Regions from separate parts of the Homo sapiens genome. Here region 2 is linked to region 1. Evidence: fine-mapped expression QTL. Tissue or cell type: whole blood. Region 1 holds a variant in brackets; the other region holds the start of a gene. All regions are shown on one strand. Distances are between the middles of the regions.

Region 1 (8,103 bases):
TGTATTTTTAGTAGAGACAGGGTTTTACTGTGTTAGCCAGGATGGTCTCGATCTCCTGACCTCGTGATCTGCTCGCCTCGGCCTCCCAAAGTGCTGGGATTACAGGTGTGAGCCACCGTGCCCGGCCAACTGCAGTGCATTTTTAAGTGTCTGGGCCACATGAGGTGAAGTGGGAAAGGCCCCATTGCCCTTTCCAAGGGAGATGGGTGGAAAGATGTAGAATGAGAAGTCAATCGAATCAGACTGAGCATTGCCCCTTCAGGATGTGGAGGAGAGTATCAATTATAGTGACTTCTAAGGCTCGTGTAATGTAAACTGGTCCAGAAAGAATAAAATGTTATTTAACCTAACAAATGTCAGAGCTTATGGTACACAAGGAGTGGGAATAAAATCATATTAACATGAGGAACATCAATAGAATGATACAGGTGAGACACATACCATCTAGAACACTACACTATTTATATAAATTACAAGTACAAACAAAAAACCTCTATCTACTTGACAAGGACCTGCAGCAAACCCCAGAGTGGGTGCCTTTGGAAGGAGGCAGGGTTGGGAGAGACGATTGATGAGGAAAGGAAAAGACCAAGCAGAAGAGGAGGTAGGCCGGGCATGGTGGCTTATGCCTGTAATCCCAGCACTTTGGGAGGCTGAGGCGAATGGATCACCTGAGGTCAGGAGTTCAAGACCAGCCTGGCCAACGTGGTGAAACCCTGGCTCTATTAAAGATACAAAAAATTAGGCGGGCATGGTGGTGCATGCCTGTAATCCCAGCACTTTGGAAGGCCAAGGCGGGCAGATCACCTGAGATCAGGAGTTTAACACTAGCCTGGCCAACACGGCAAAACCCCGTCTCTACTAAACAAAATACAAAAATTAGCTGGGCATGTTTGTGGGCACCTGTAATCTCAGTTACTCAGAAGGCTGAGGCAGGAGAATCGTTTGAACCTGGGAGGTGGAGGTTGCAGTGAGCCAAGATCCTGCCACTGCACTCCAGCCTGGGCGACAGAGTGAGACTCTGTCTCGAAAAAAAAAAAAAAAAAAAAAAAAAAAAAAAAAAAAAGAAGAGGAGGTAGCGATGACCCTTGATGGAAATTCCCTTGAACTGGAGAGAATGATTAACTCAACTCTGCACCAAACAAACAAGCCAACAAGCACTGAGACTGGTCAGTGCTTATCTTGGAATGGTTTGTCACGTTTTTGGGAAAAGCGGTGAACACATCTGTCGCTCCTCTGGCTGGTGAGAAGACTGAACTCCATAGTGATCCCCAACCATACAGTCACCTCGCACTGCAGCATCACAATGGCTCAGCACAGGGGCCTCCACTGGCAGAAGAAAGAATCCCACAAGAGACCTCCTGCTGTAGCCAAGGAGGGGCTAAGGAACCCTGGACCAGGGGATATGGAAAAGTCAGTTGCCTGGAAAGAGGAAAACTTGGAGTACAGAAGAGAAGTTAAAAGAGAAAGACAGAAAGCAGCCTACAGCCCCACCACCTTATTTTGAAGGCCCAGGATTGCAGTTCTTATGGGTTGAATTGTGTTTCTTCCACAGAGGATAGGCTGGAATCCTCACCACCAGCACTTCATGATGTGACCCTATCTGGAGACAGGGTCTTTTTGTATTGTTTGTTTTTGGAGATAGGGTTAAACAAGTTAAAATGAGATCATTAGTGTGAACTCTAATTGACTATGACTGGTGTCCTTCTAAGAAGGGGAAATTGGCCGGGTGTGGTGGCTCACACCTATAATCCCAGCACTTTGGGAGGCTGAGGTGGGCGGATCACTTGAGGTCAGGAGTTCAAGACCAGACTGACCAATATGGTCAAACTCTCTCTTTAGTAAAAATACAAAAATTAGCTGGGCATGGTGGTGGGCACCTGTAATCCCAGCTACTCAGGAGGCTGAGGCAGGAGAATCACTTGAACCCGGGAGGCAGAGGTTGCAGTGAGCCCAGATTGTGCCATTGCACTCCAGCCTGGGCGACAAGAGTGAAACTTTGTATCAAAAAAAAAAAAGGGTAGGGTGGTGGGGGAATTTGCACACAGACATGTCCACAGGAGAACACCACGTGCAGATGGGAGTGATGTTGCCACACACCAAGGAACTAGAGCCAAGGAAGAGAGGCTTGGAACAGATCCCTCCCGAGCACCTTCCGAGTGAGTGAGCATGGCCCCGCTGGGACCTTGAGTGTGGACTTCCTGTCTCTAGAACTGTGAGACAGTAAATGTCTGTTGTAAGCCACCCAGTTTGTGGTACTTTGTTATTGCAGCCCTGGGCAGCTTGTGCAGCAACTCTCTCCCCTTATGTTGCTTTTGAGGCGATGACAGCGTTGTGTAGTTGAAACTCCTGCTCCTCCCACGGCACCGGATCTTCGAAGAACCACCTGGCCATCCACAAAGGATGGCTGACATCACCTCAGCCCCCTGGGGAGGATAGCAAGGCAGGTTCACAGAGAAAACCCCGTCAGGCATCCTAAAGGGACACTGGTGAAATGTCACAGCCCCTGTGTCATCGGGGGTGGTGGCAGCACAGGACTGATAGTTTGCGGTCAGCAGAGAAGATGTCCCTGGTCAGGAAAGAGCAATTCTCTGCTCACCTCAAAGGGACAAGGGATGAGGTGGGAAGGGGGAGGCTGCCACACCTGCGTTACGTGAACTGATAACACCTGGGCTCCAGAGCGCCCCGACCTAAAATGACCACAGCTGATTGAGAAAGCTGAGGACTGGGCTGGAGATTATGCATCTGCGCATGCTTTTTTAGTTCATTCTGTGGGAGCAACTTTTGGAGAATTGGAACAGATCGGGGGCGAATCAGGGGAAGGCAACTCTGAGGGGAACGTTCAGGGGAATTTAGAAGAAGGATGATAATGTAGGTGCAGAAGTCATTGCAGCCCGCCCCTTGAACTCGTCTCAGGAAGGTGTGCACTGGACGAGTCAAACAAGGTGCTGCACTTGAGCCTGAGTCTGGGTGCAGCAAGCTCCGCAGAGGCAGCGACTGTATCCTTGAATGGCTGGGATTGCTGGGGCCACTGCTGCCTAAGCAGGTCTGGAAATGGGGGTACAGCAAAAAGCTGTTTTATTGGGGTGTGTGTGTGTTTTGAGACAGGATCTTGCTCTGTTGCCCAGGCTGGAGTGCAGTGCCATGATCATAGCTCACTGCAGCCTTGAACTCCTGGGCTCAGGTGATCCTCCTGCCTCAGCCTCCCAAGTAGCTGGGACTACAGTTGCACCACCACACCCAGCTAATTTTTTTATTTTTATTTTTATTTTTGTAGAGATAGGGGTCTCATTATGTTGCCCAGTCTGGTCTCCAACTCCTGGCCTCTGGTCTCCAACTCCTGGCCTCAAGCAATCCTCCCACCTTGGCCTCCGAAGTGTTGGAATTACAGGCATGAGCCACTGCTCCTAGCCTGAAAGCTGTTGTTTTTATCCACCAGCTTCTCCCCCTCCCTTGCTACCTACCCACATTTGAGGGTTAGTGCAGGCCTCCTTCCCTTGGGGAAGGTGATCCTGATGAGGCTGCCAATCACAGTTCCCTTTCTTCCCCCTCACTTCAGCCCAAGAGGCAGGCATGAGACCCAAGCCTAGCCAATCAGAGCTCTTTATTGGGAGTTACGTCTTCTAAAGCAAGAAGTCCTCTCCCTCCTTAGGATGGCCAAACTGACATGATATGAGCCTAGAGCTGCCTGTAGCCATGTTGAGCCTAGCCCAGTCACAAATTCTGGGTCACTAAAGGTTAGTGAGAATCCTGATGACAACATATAAATATTTTTATTCTGTCCCTGCCCAACCTGTGGACACATGTCTGAGACCTAAGGAGAGAGATGGCTGTGAGTAAAAAGTGAGATCTCAGTAAAATCTCTACAGACCTCCAGGGCAAGGGCAGTGCATTGGAGAGGAGAGAAGCATCTTGCTACCACTTCAACATAGAGCAGCTCCAGCTTTGGTCCAGTGAGTTCTGCAGGGTGAATAGCTGGAAAGTGGGCCATGGCCCATGGGAGACTTTGGTGCTTGGCAGGGGCACGAGTTCCAGTGGCAACACCATCTCCTGGCAGGAGATGGTGGTATCTTGAAAACCATAGGAAGTACTGGGTGAGAGAGCAAAACAGCACTCAGGGAGAACAGTCTTG[T/TACAC]ACACACACACACACACACACACATACACGTGAGACTGGTCCCTCTTCTCATGATTCACAAACATACTTCTTATTTTTCTATGGGGGTGGGATGTGTGGGATGGTTGATTAACAGAAGATTGCAGGTATAGGTCTGGCTTCAGCAGATAAGGCAAGAGCCAGTGAAATCTGAGTTTTGGGGTTTTGTATGAGACAGGGTCTCACTCTGTCACCCAGGCTGGAGTGCAGTGGTACACTCACTGCTCACTGCAGTCTTGACCTCTTGGGCTCAAGTCAGTCATCCTCCTGCCTCAGCCTCCTGAGTAGCTGGGATTACAAGTGTGTGCCACCACACCCAGTTAATTTTTAATTTTTTTTGTAGATCTGGGGTTTTGCTCTGTTGCCCAGGCTGATCTTGAACTCCTGTGTTCAAGCAATCTTCCTGCCTCAGCCTCCCAAAGTGCTGAGATTAAGGGCATGAGACATCGTGCCCAGCCATGGAATCTGAGTGTTATTCTTGCTGTGTCCCCTATTGTTCCCATAGGCTGAGGTGGCCTGGGAAACTCAGGTTATATTTGGGTAACCTCAGTAAAGTTGGCCAACTAATGGCCAGTGTTTTGCTTATCTACTGCTGTGTAACAAATTACTCCAAAACATGGAGATTTAAGTAACAGTGAATATTTTTTATCTCTCACAGGTTGGGGATTTGGAAATGACTTAGCTGAGTGGTTCTGACTCAGGGGTCTCATGAAGCCATAGCACAATGTTGGTCAGGGCTGTAGGATCCACTTCTAAGTAGCCTCACTCACATCGCTGGCAAATTATGCTTGCTCAGGGAGTGGGGGTGGGAGCTCAGTTCTTCCCCAAGTGGACTTCTCCATGGGAAGGCTTGAGTATCCTCACAACATGGCAGCTGACTTACCAGAGAGCAAGTGATCCAACTGAGCAAGATGGAAGCCACAGTGAGGGTTATAGCATTGGAAGTTCAACTCTTTCTTTTCTGCAATATCCTATTATTACATAATTCATCCCAACTCAGTGTGGGAGGGGAAGACACAAGAGCATGAACATCAGGAGGCAAGGCTCACTGAGGGCTTTCTCAGAAGCCGGCTGCTACAGCATGGCATCATATTCAAAAGCAGCACCAGTTTGACATCCAAAAGCACTGAAAAGCCATTGAAGTCTCTACCGAAGAAGTATGGGAAGAAGGAAAGACATTGCAGAATGCCCAGTAGAAGTTCAAAAGTTCCTCTTCACTCTTCAATTTTCCCAGTTTTCTCATCACAGCAATTGCTTCCCCAAATCTCTTCTTTCAAACTAACTGAAATTTTCACATCTCTCCTGTTACCCCCTCGCCACCTCCGTTATATAGATCGAATCAACCTCTCCTGACTCTCCACCCTCCCACTTACCCTGAAGCCCCAAGAACCAGGTAGGCAATCACAGGCACTCCTGAGTGAGGCCTAGGAAGTGTAGGAAGAGGGAAGGCAGTGAAGAATGATATACTAACATTTTGTGTCAGTATCACATGTATATCCTAAGTGCCTAGTATGGTGCCTAGAATACAGCAGGTGCTCAATACATGTTGGTGAATTAATGGATAGAGACATTTAACAAATTCTAGATGAAAATGCTGGTATTCAGTGGTAATAATATAGCAACAAGTTTCCATATGAAACACAAAAATGCTATGCTACTATCTTCTTTTAAAATGTCCATGATAGGCTGGGCATGGTGGCTCACGCCTGTAATCCTAGGACTTTGGGAGGCCGAGGCAGGTGGATCATTTGAGGTCAGGAGTTCGAGACTAGCCTGGCCAACATGGTGAAACCCTGTCTTTACTAAAAATAAAATTAAAAAAAAATTAGCCAGGTATGGTGGCACATGCCTGTAGTCCTAGTTACTTGGGAGGCTGAGGCAGGAGAATCGCTTGAACCCGGGAGGCAGAGGTTGCAGTGAGCTGAGATTGCACCACTGCGCTCTAGCCTGGGTGACACAGCAAGACTCCCACCTCCAAAAAAATCAAGAAATAAAAGTCCATGATAAGAATATGTAATGTTGCCATACACACGTGCATGCACACACACACGCACATACACGTGTGTGTGTGCGTGTGTGTGTGTGTGTGTGTGTATAGAGAGAGAGAAAGAGAGAGAGAGAGAGAGAGGGTCTTACTCTGTTGCCCAGGCTGGAGTGCAGTGGTGCAATCATGGCTTATTGAAGCCTTGGCCTCCCAGGCTCAAGTGATCCTCCCACCTCAGCCCCCTGAGAAGCCAGGACTACAGGCGTGTGCCACCATGCTTGGCTAATTTGTAAATTTTTTGTAGGGACAGGGTCTTGCTTGTTGCCCAGGCTGGTCTCAAACACCTGGGTTCAACCAATCCTTCCACCTCGACCTCTCAAAGTGTTGGGATTACAGGCGTAAGTCACCGTGCCTGGACTGTATATTTTGTGTGTGTGTGTGTTCTCTGAACAAGCTTCTTGAAAGCAGGATCTGTGTTTTATTCACCCTTATATCCCCAAAGCCTGGCAATGCCTGACTTGGAGTAGGCAGGAATTTTGTCAGTAATGTACTGAGCATTCACAACATGTGTCAGACACTCTTCCAGGGCTGATACGCATAGTAACTCTTAATTCTCATAATCACCTAATGCGGTTGGTTATATTATCATTTCCATTTTTTAGATTACAAAATGGGGCATGAAGAGGTTGAGTAACTTGCTGGAGGTTATGAAGTAAGAGCTGAGATTTAGACCAGGGCTGTTTTGTTCTAGAGCCCACGACCATCCTCTACCACATCTGCAGTGTTTGTAGAACTGAATTAAAGATGAGTGAGTAGATCTGTCAAACTTGTGCCAGGGAAAGCCCATAAGCTTACACCAGACACAGCTAGAAAGACATTGAGGAAGTCCTGGAAACCACCAGTGTGTTTTTAGGTGACTCATGGAGGCAAGAGAGCAAGTTGCAATGTCTCCGAGGGTAGTTGGTTTAGGAAAGGATGAAATATGTCAGAAAAATCTATGTACATAAATAAAACCAAGCAGCTGTGTTCACATTAAGATCCAAACGGAAACCCAGCTGAAGTAGGAGCCGTTGGATCTGTCCCACCAACCTGTTGTGAGCATGAGCTAGGTAAATATTTGGCTGATACAAGGTCCATCACAGGTTAATAGCTCTGGTCATTACCAAGCCTGGTTATGCTGGAATTGCATGTAGTCTCAACTGGACACTCATGTTTAAGCACAATTTAAAAAATCACCAAGGGAAACCAGGAAGCAACACTTCTATTTGGGAAGTCAACTAATGGAAAGTTTTCTAAAATAAGTAACACAGCTTCAGCTTCAGCAATGGGATTTGTGACATCCCTCCCGTGTCACAGTTAATGTCTACCTTGTTTAATACCACATAATAGTACTTTTAGCCTTCAGAACCTTGAAACTGCATAACTACTGGAACAGTTTAAAAAGAATGAGAACATAATGATTTCATACAGCCCATACGTTTCCCAAATAAGTAAAGGGAAGCTGACTTACGGCAATGAGAGGCGGTGTGGTAACCCGGAGAAACTAGGCTGTCGGTGGGACACATGGGTGTGAATCAGCTCTGCTACTTACATGCTCTGTGTGTCTCCGCAGGACACTTAACCTCTTTGAGCCTTACTTTCGTCATCTGGAAATCAAGAGGGTTGCCCTAGATAATTCTAAGGACCGGCCCAGCTGAAGGTTTGTGAGTGCATGAGAAGCCTGCGGTGGGTAAGGTTATGGTGTCAGCTTCCACGTGGTCTGCGTATACAGTGAAGCCCACGTGCCCTGCTCCATTTGGAGAGGCAGCTTGGCCAAGGTGTAGAATTGGAATCATCTGCATTGGAAGCTGCCTTTTGAAAGTGCTAGCAGTGTGCCCCAAGCGCTTGTTTTCTGATGGAGCTGATCTGCCCTGCCCAAGCACTAACTGGGAAGCTCTTACCCTTATTTTCCCTTTGCCCCAATTCCTTT
Region 2 (8,103 bases), 53 kb after region 1:
CAACACCCAGCTAATTAAAAAAAATTTTTTTTTTGTAGAGGTGGGGTGGGGTCTTGTTATGTTGACTAGGCTGGTCCTGAACTCCTGGGCTCAAGTGATCCTCCCACCTTGGCTTCCCAAAGTGCTGGGAATGCAGATGTGAGCCACCACTCCTGGCCTGGTTGTTTCTACTTTTTGGTTTTTATGTATTAGCCATGAATTAATGCTGCCATGAACAGTTGTGTACAACTTTTTGTATGAACAGGTGTTTTCGTTTCTCCTAGGTATATAGCTAGCAGTGAAATTGTGGAGTCAAGTAGTAAATCTATGTTTAACCTGTTGAATTGCGCCACTGCACTCCAGTCTGAGTGACACAGTGAGGTCCTGTCTCAAAAAAACAAAACCAAGAAACACCTTTTGAGAAACTGCCAGACTGTTTTCCAAAGCAGCTGCACCACTTTACATTTCTGCCAGCAGTGCAAGAGGGTTTCAATTTCTCCACATCCTGGCCAACATTTATTATTACCTGCCTTTGATTATCGGCATCCCAGTGGGTATGAAATGGTATTTCACTATGTTTTTAATTTGCATTTTCCTGATGGCGAACACTATTGGGCATCTTTTCTCATGCTTATTGGCCATTTGTATGTTTTCTTTGGAGAAATGTATATTCGGATCCTTTGTCCATTTTTAAACTGGGTTATTTGCCTTTATTAAATTGTAGGAGTTCTTTATGTATTTCCGTAAGTTTCTTATCAGATATATGAATTGCAAAAATTTCCCCCCATTTTTTGGGTTGTCTTTTCACTTGATGTCCTTTGATGCATAAAAGTTTTAAATTTTGGTGAAGTCCAATTTATCTTTTTCTTTCCTTTGTTGCATGTGGCTCACATTTTTGAGAAATGTTGCTAAAATGCAACTTGGAACTCTGGAAGCTTTGAGATCTCAGAGCTTGGTGGGGCTTTTCAGGTCACTTTTGAGGGGGATTTTCTCCATGTTTGAGGTTTCATTCCTCCATCCCAGCCAGGCATGGCTCCTCTGAGCCAGGAGCACAGAGCCCCAGGGAACCTTTACTAGGCTTACGTTCCCTCCCTCTCCTGAGGTCTGCCACAATAGAGCAGCTGAAATGACAGTCTGGAAATGTCCTTTATTGTGAAAACTCAATGGCTTTTGTCTCTGGGATTTGAAATTTTCATGCAAGTATTGGCAGCCAAGAATTAGGAAGGAGGAGGGGAAGAGATGGGGGAGTAAACCCTGCCACTAATTTCCATAGTGAATCATCTCAATTCTCTGTTGTCTTGGTTTTCTCATCCAAACAGTTGGGAAAATACCTCCATCTCCTCATCTCAGCTGGGGTACTGTGAAAGTGAGTTCACCTGTATTTGTTAGAACACCTTGAGATCTTGGATTAAAGGCATTGCTGAGACACAAGGTATTATAATAATAATAAATGATTTAATAGCAGGGTGAGGCCATTGCAACAAGAACTGGTAGGAAGAGGCTCCGAGCTGTGGAGGGGCTGCAGCCTGGAGCCCCTGGCCCTTGACACAGGGTTTTATTATCGGAGGAGAGACTGTGCGATTTCTCACAAACTCTTTAGATTGTTTCAGTTGAATTCAGCATTGTTTTACTGAGTGCTTCCTATATGACTTCTACCACAGGGAGATTACAATCTTTTTAGGAAGTAGGTGATATAAATTAAAACAATTATTAATAGAAACAATATATTATAATCAAGTGAATTGGGCATAACAAGTGTCAGAAAGAAACTGGAAGCAGTGATGGTGAAGGGCAGAATTCCCTGTTATGACTTCCAGGTCTACCACCCACTAGCTGTGTGACTTTGCCTCAGTTTCCTTTTCTGTTACTGCAATTGTTTTTGTAAAGTACTTAGAAGAATGGCTAATACATAGTAAGCACACTCATAGTAAGCACACACCCATCTAGGCACTTGCCCGACACTGCTTTTGCTGGTTGTGTAATCTTTGCCAAGTTGCTCCTTGCCCCTAAGCCTCAGTGTTCTGTCTGCAAGATGGGGATTAGGATATCTCCTACCTCGCAAGGTGGCTGTGAGGATCCAGGGACACAGTTTGTTAAGAGTGTAGCACAGGCCCTCTGCATGGTAAGCATTCACTAAAGGACAGTTATGACTGCCACTAACACTGTAACGTGTCCTGGCTAAGGAGTGAAGGGTCGCTCACAAGTGGCTAAGTCAGGGGGCTTCTTTGGAAGCTGGAATTTGAAGCGGACCGGAAGGCATTCGTAAGATTCAGGTGATCAGATAAGAAAGCATAAACAAAAAAAGGTGAAAGCCTGAGGTTGGAAGGGGTGACCACAAGTCCTGGAAGGCCAGAAGGGGGACTTGTCACTTCTCCCCTGGCCGGCGGGGTCTAGCGGAGCCCCAACTAAGTTGATCTATTTCCGAGCCCCTCTTCTGCAATCTCTGCTCTCACCTTCACGGTCCGCGAGTCTGGGGCTCTGCAAGCCTCCAACACACCCTCCCTCCCTAAGGAATGTGGGCCCCGCTTTCTGGGCCTGCCAGACCGAGCGCCTACCGCTTCCTCCGCAGGCAGGAGCCGGGACGCTGCCTTCACCCCACCCTCCGCCAGGATCCAGTTTCAAAGTCACCTGAAAGCCATTTCCTTCCGCGCCTGCCCCGCCTCTCCCCTCCCAGTAGATCACCTGGAGCTTGCATTTGCCCAGAGCAGCATTTTGGGGCGGGCGCTTGTTTTGTTTTAAATGATACCTCTAGAAATCGTTTGCTGTACACCTGGATAACAAATATACCCCGTGGTTCTAATATCAGCGTCCTATTCCTCCTCCCAAGGAACTAGTGATAGCGCCTAACCAGTGGGCGTTGTTCCTCTTCCGGAGCCCCACTCTGGGCTTCCCTCCTCCGGGCTTGTTGTTCTTCAGGATCTTTACTGATGAATTATTATGGGTTTTTGGATTTATGCTCTTGCTCAAAATGTATTGAATGTCTCTGTCCCCCATCCTCACCCCTTGCCCCCCAGTTTCCAGGTGTGTACCTTTCCATGCATACACGGTCATATACAGAGACATAAAGACAAACGGTTCTCTTTGTTTTATAAAAACGGGTCCTCTATCATCCAGGTTTCTGTGTTTTATTTTTCCTATTTAACAGTTCCTTGTGGAGTTGCCTTCACGTTGTCTCCTTTATCTCTTTCCCGTCAGCTTCTCAGAGGTCTGCATTTACCACTGTAAAGCGTCACAGGGACCGAGTTATGGTGAGGAATTCAAGACATGCCTTTCTGACTTGGAAAAGCGGACACGGCCGGCTCTGGTAGGATTAGGATCCCCAGATCGATCCCGGCTGGTCACTCACTTGGGAAAGCCCTCAGCCCCCTTCGCAGGGCCCGGTGTTCCCTGTCCATACAAGGGGTACGTTCTGGCAGTCCATGCTGTCTCGGGAGGCGGTGATAGCAGGTCTGTGACACCAGGGTGACCCCACCACGTGCGTCTTGGTATCCTAGAGCATCTAGGCTGCCCGGGGGTGCGCGCTCATCACCCTGCGGGCGTTAATCGTTAACCGCGCCCAGGCCTCGCCGCCGCCGCAGCCTTACCCCGGCTCTGGCTCGCCGCGCCGCGAAGGTTGCCCCGGCCCCCGCAGAGCCGCCAATTGCTGGACTGCAGCCGCGAGCTGGAGTCTCCACCCACAGGAAAAATTCCTGGCCCGCCCCTCCCTCGCTCCCTCGCTCCCTCGCTCCCTCGCTCCCTCGCTCCCTCGCTCCCTCGCTCCCTCCTGCCCTCCCGCTGCAGCTCCGGCTCCGCTCGACTTCCTGCCGGGCGCTGGCAAGCCGCGCGCTGCCTGGGGTCTCCGGGGGCCGCGCTTGCAGCTGGCCGAGTCCGGGCCAGCTGAGGGGCTGGCGGTGGGCGGGAGCGGTCGGCGGCCTCAGCCCCTTCAGAGAGCGACTTTCAAACTCGCGCCCGCGTCGCGGCAGCACCTGGGCAGCCCCGCACGCCGTGCGCGTCCCGAGCCCGCGGGGCAGCTACCGCTCGGTGAGTGTCCCCTGATTCTCCTCTCTCCCCTCTTATCTCCCTGCATTAGGCTGAGCGGCGGTGCCGGCAGTCACGCTGGGGCCCCAGTCCCTTCGCGGCCCCCGTGCCAGCCCCCTGCGGGGTGAGGACCGGGGCGACCGAGGAGGGCCTGGAACTGTGTTGGCTGCTTCCCGGGCCACCCTGCCGCAGAGTGCGCGAGCGCAGGAGGGTCGTATGGGGAGACTTTTTCTGTCTTTTTTTCCCTCCACTCCGGAAACAAAAGGGGCAAATGCGCCGGGCGGCTCCAGAGAGGCTCAGTTTGAAATCCAGGAAGCCCGCGAGGCCGCGCGCGCCCGAGGGCTGGTGTTTGGCTGGAGCTGTGGGCCTGGCGGGTGGACCCTTCTGCGCGAGGACCCGAGCCTCGGCTCCTGCCAGCCCCGGAGGCGCCTGCAGCCTGTTCCGGGTTGGCGCCGCACGGTGCTCGCTGTTGGGAATCTCGGCTACCTGTCCGGCAGGGAGGAGAGTGGGGGCCAGAAGCGGGGAGCGGAAAGCCCGGCCACCAGCTGCCTCGACCTCGTCCACTCCTGAAGTCGGTTTGGTTCTTCGCACCCCTACACCCAGCCCTTTGGTTTGGAAAGCCAGTATAAGGCGTGCAAGCTTAAATTTTTAAGGCGTTAAATAGCTACTTTGACTCTTCGGGGCGCCTTTGGAACACAAAAGGAAGAACGGAGGGGAGAATGGAATGGTTGGAGGCTGGAGAGGTGTGGCTTTTGGGGAGGGTGTTGTTAGAGGCCGCGAAAGAGTTTGATCCTCGAGGTCACTCGCTAATCTGTTGGCATATGTAGGTGCCTGTCCCCTGCTCTGGGGGCCCCAGCAGGAGACCCACACTGCGTTCACCTTACGGGGAACCCTGGAGTGGGGGTTCCCAGAGTCTCCCCAGCCGTGCCTCTGCACGCAGCCCAGTCACATGGCCCTTGCTCAAGAAATAATAAGCAGGGAGGGCAATGACAGTCCGGAGCGGGGGAGGGCCTCCCCGTTGAGCACATCGGCCACCTCGCCTTCAGCAGTGTGGTTTTCCGGGCCATCCTTTGTTGGACAAGGATGGGATCCTGAGTGATTAAACCCCAGCTGTTCCCCAGGAGGAAACTAGGGAGTGAGAACCAAAAGTGTACATTTATCTCTCTGTTATACATCTCTCCCCTGTGGTTCCGGGCTGGCCCCCTGGATGCAATGGCCTCACTTCTCCTTTCGACACCTGCTGTCCTCCACTCCCTTCCTGGAAGATAGGACAACCCATTAGCTCCCTGGGTAACTTGCCCTGGGGATGGGGCAGGAAGTTGGGGGAAGAGGTACCCAGAGGCCAAGTCCTAGCTGCTGAGGGAGTGATTTGTTGAAGAGCTGCTTTGGGGGCTTTTCTACTGCCTTTTATTAGAAGTGGCATGGCAGGGGAAGTGGAAAGAGCACTGGCCTGATAGTCCAGCACGGGTTTATGCCTGAGTTTTAGACCTGGCTCTTCTGCATAGCATGGAAGATTGGTAGAGTTGAAGAGTGCGAGTCACTTGGGCTGGGGGGCCCCTTGGATTAGCCTACTTCATTTACTCGTGAAGGCAGCAGAGCCCAGAGGGGTGAGGTGATTTCAGCCTTAGACCCTATTGGCCAAGTAGAAACCAGAGGTCAGATGTCCTCATTGTCTGATCTGTGTTTTCTCCAACATGATCTGGCCAATTCACTTATCTTTTCTGACTCAGTTTCCACATAAATAAAGTGGGATTACTTGCCTGCTCTTCCTCATAGGAGCTGTGGTGAGGATCAAAGGAAGCCTCATTTGTGGAAAGTGCTCCATAAACTCCTGTTAAAACTAAAGGGCTCACAGTGGCTCGGGAGGGAGTCTCCCAAGGGTTTTACAATTTGCTGGCTATGTCCCACGTGTGTGCCACAAGGAGACGTTAGATACCAGGAGCCATTGTTGGATGTTTAAAACACCCTGGTCTTAATATCTCAGCCCCAGAGTAAACATTTGCCTTACCAAATCCGCAGCTATCCCACGGTCACTGTTTACGCTGGAAGAGGCCAAAGGCCACGGCCTGCGGGATGACCAGGGCTGGAGGGGGAAGGCTCCTCTGTTGCAGAGGTATGCCTTGCCCGTTCTCTTCTCCCAGCTCCCAGAACCTTGTGAAGGCTCCAGCTGTAAGCCAGGGGTGCTGCCACAAGCCCAGGCCGCCCTGGCCTTGGAGGGTTAAAAGTGAAGCCCTCTGGCTATTCTCTGTTGTGTTGGGGGTTGCAGGGACTCTGGGAGGGTGTTGCTTTTGCAGCTGCACTGAGGGCTGTCTTCAGCTCCTCATCTGTGCCCCCTCCCCCATCTCAGGCCGCCCCTCTGGCCCAGGCCACTGCTCTGTCCCGCCTCTCTGGCCAGCTGCAAGTCCACAGGCCTTTGTTCCGTGGCTGCAAACCCGCCCTACTCCATCCTCCCTCCTCAGCAGAAGCCCTCCAGCGGGGGCCCTGGCAGCTGGAAATCACAACTGCCAGGAGGAAGGGGCTACTGGAGCCCCCAGCGGACCTGGCAGATCCTCATTTCCTCTTGTCAAGCTCATCTGGGCCCCACAACTCACCTCTGGCCAGATTCCCACACCGTCTTTTCTCATCTCTCCTTTCTTCTGCTGAATGGACGGATCACCTTTTCCTCCCAGTACTCATGCCCCTTAGTTCTATTTTAAAGTACTCTATTCATTCATTTAATAGTTAAGGAGTTAGCACCTACTATGTATGAATGCCAGATGCAGAAGACACAGCAGTGAAGAAAATATACAATAATTATTGACCCAGTGGAGCTGACTTTAGCAGAAGTGACAATAAACAAGATTGAAATAGCAAGTGTGTTAGTGATAAACAGAAATAAAAAATATGATAGGGAAGGTAGGTGTGAATTGTCATGGAAGGGGTGAGGTGACAGTTTAGATAGGGTGGCCAGGGAGGCTTCCAGGAGGAAGGTACTTTTGAGGTGATGCCTGAAGGCGGTATTTTTCTTCATCGCTGCCTTTTCTAACTTGAAGCCCAGTTCATCCCACTGTGGCATCGAGGAACAGAGTTTGGAGTTGGACACACCTTGGTTTCAAATCCCTGGCTTGACAGCTCACTAGCCCTGTGGACTTTGATGTGGTGCTAAATTCCTTTGAGCTGTGTTTCTTACCCAACGTGGAGTTAGTCATCATACTTACCACATGCGGCATCATGGCAATGTACAGTGAGATAACGTATGTTGAATGCTTAGCAAAGACTATAGAGAGGTTCGATAAACTATTTCTCCAACCAAATTCTGCAGGGGTAGCATGAGATATTTAATGTCATTGCTAAGGACTGTAGGTGCAAAGCTTTTCATTTTAGATATTGGGCAGGAGTGGGGAATTAGAGGGAGGGGAAAATAGAAAACCTTGGCAAAAACTTTCTGGTTAGGGAGGCTTTCCTGCCCTACCCTAGATTGCAGATGGCTGAGGACGTGGGACTCCCAGGTATGTCCTATGCCCACCCCCATCCTACAGATAGGATGACAGGGGCAGCCCTGACCACCCCCCTCTTGCTCTGGAATTCCCCCTGCTTCCAGCCAGACTCAATGAATCACACCTTCTCCCTGACCTCCCGACTCTGCCTCACAGCTGGGAAGGCTGTCCACCCCTCCCCCAGCCTCCGGCAGGTAAATTATGCCTGGAGGTCGGAAGCGGAGTGGGGCGGGGACAAGGGGTAGGGAAAGTGAGGGAGGGGGCAGATGGTGGGTGGAGCTGTCCTAGGAAAGCCCAGAAGGGTGGCAGGAGGATTCTGGTGGAGGCTTCGAGATGGCTCGGAAGACTTTGAATAAGGGTTCGCCAGGGACCAGAATTTAAAGTAACAGAGTGACAGACACAATGAGAACTCAGGGTCGGCTGCCTAACTCCTAGCCGCTTCTACCCAGCTGATCTGCTGAGTCTCCGACCCTCTCTGCTGGAACCACGGGCCTACAAAGGGAGGGGTTTAATCTAAAGTACCGCTGTCAAAGTTTGTGGTGAGTGGCTTCCTGGAGACCCTGCCCTAGTTCAGGAAGTGAGAGATGGGCAGTGGAGGATGAGGCCTAGGGAAGTGGTCATGGCCAGTTCC

Evidence for each region. PIP is the estimated chance that this variant, and not a neighbour inherited with it, causes the effect.
Region 2: it holds the start of PLEKHG3, and the variant in region 1 is fine-mapped to the expression of PLEKHG3 in whole blood (INTERVAL, PIP above 0.99).

Annotation. Positions count from the first base shown.
Region 1 is chr14:64,647,404-64,655,506 of GRCh38, forward strand. No RefSeq gene overlaps it. Among named protein-coding and RNA genes, the nearest start is that of PLEKHG3, 53 kb to the right of the region's middle. The variant T/TACAC (reference allele first, on the strand shown) is at 4,133.
Region 2 is chr14:64,700,706-64,708,808 of GRCh38, forward strand. It overlaps PLEKHG3 (pleckstrin homology and RhoGEF domain containing G3), which reads left to right and starts at 3,719. Exons shown (of 17, transcript NM_001308147.2): 1 at 3,719-3,999. RefSeq lists enhancers at 1,998-2,499, 7,733-8,103.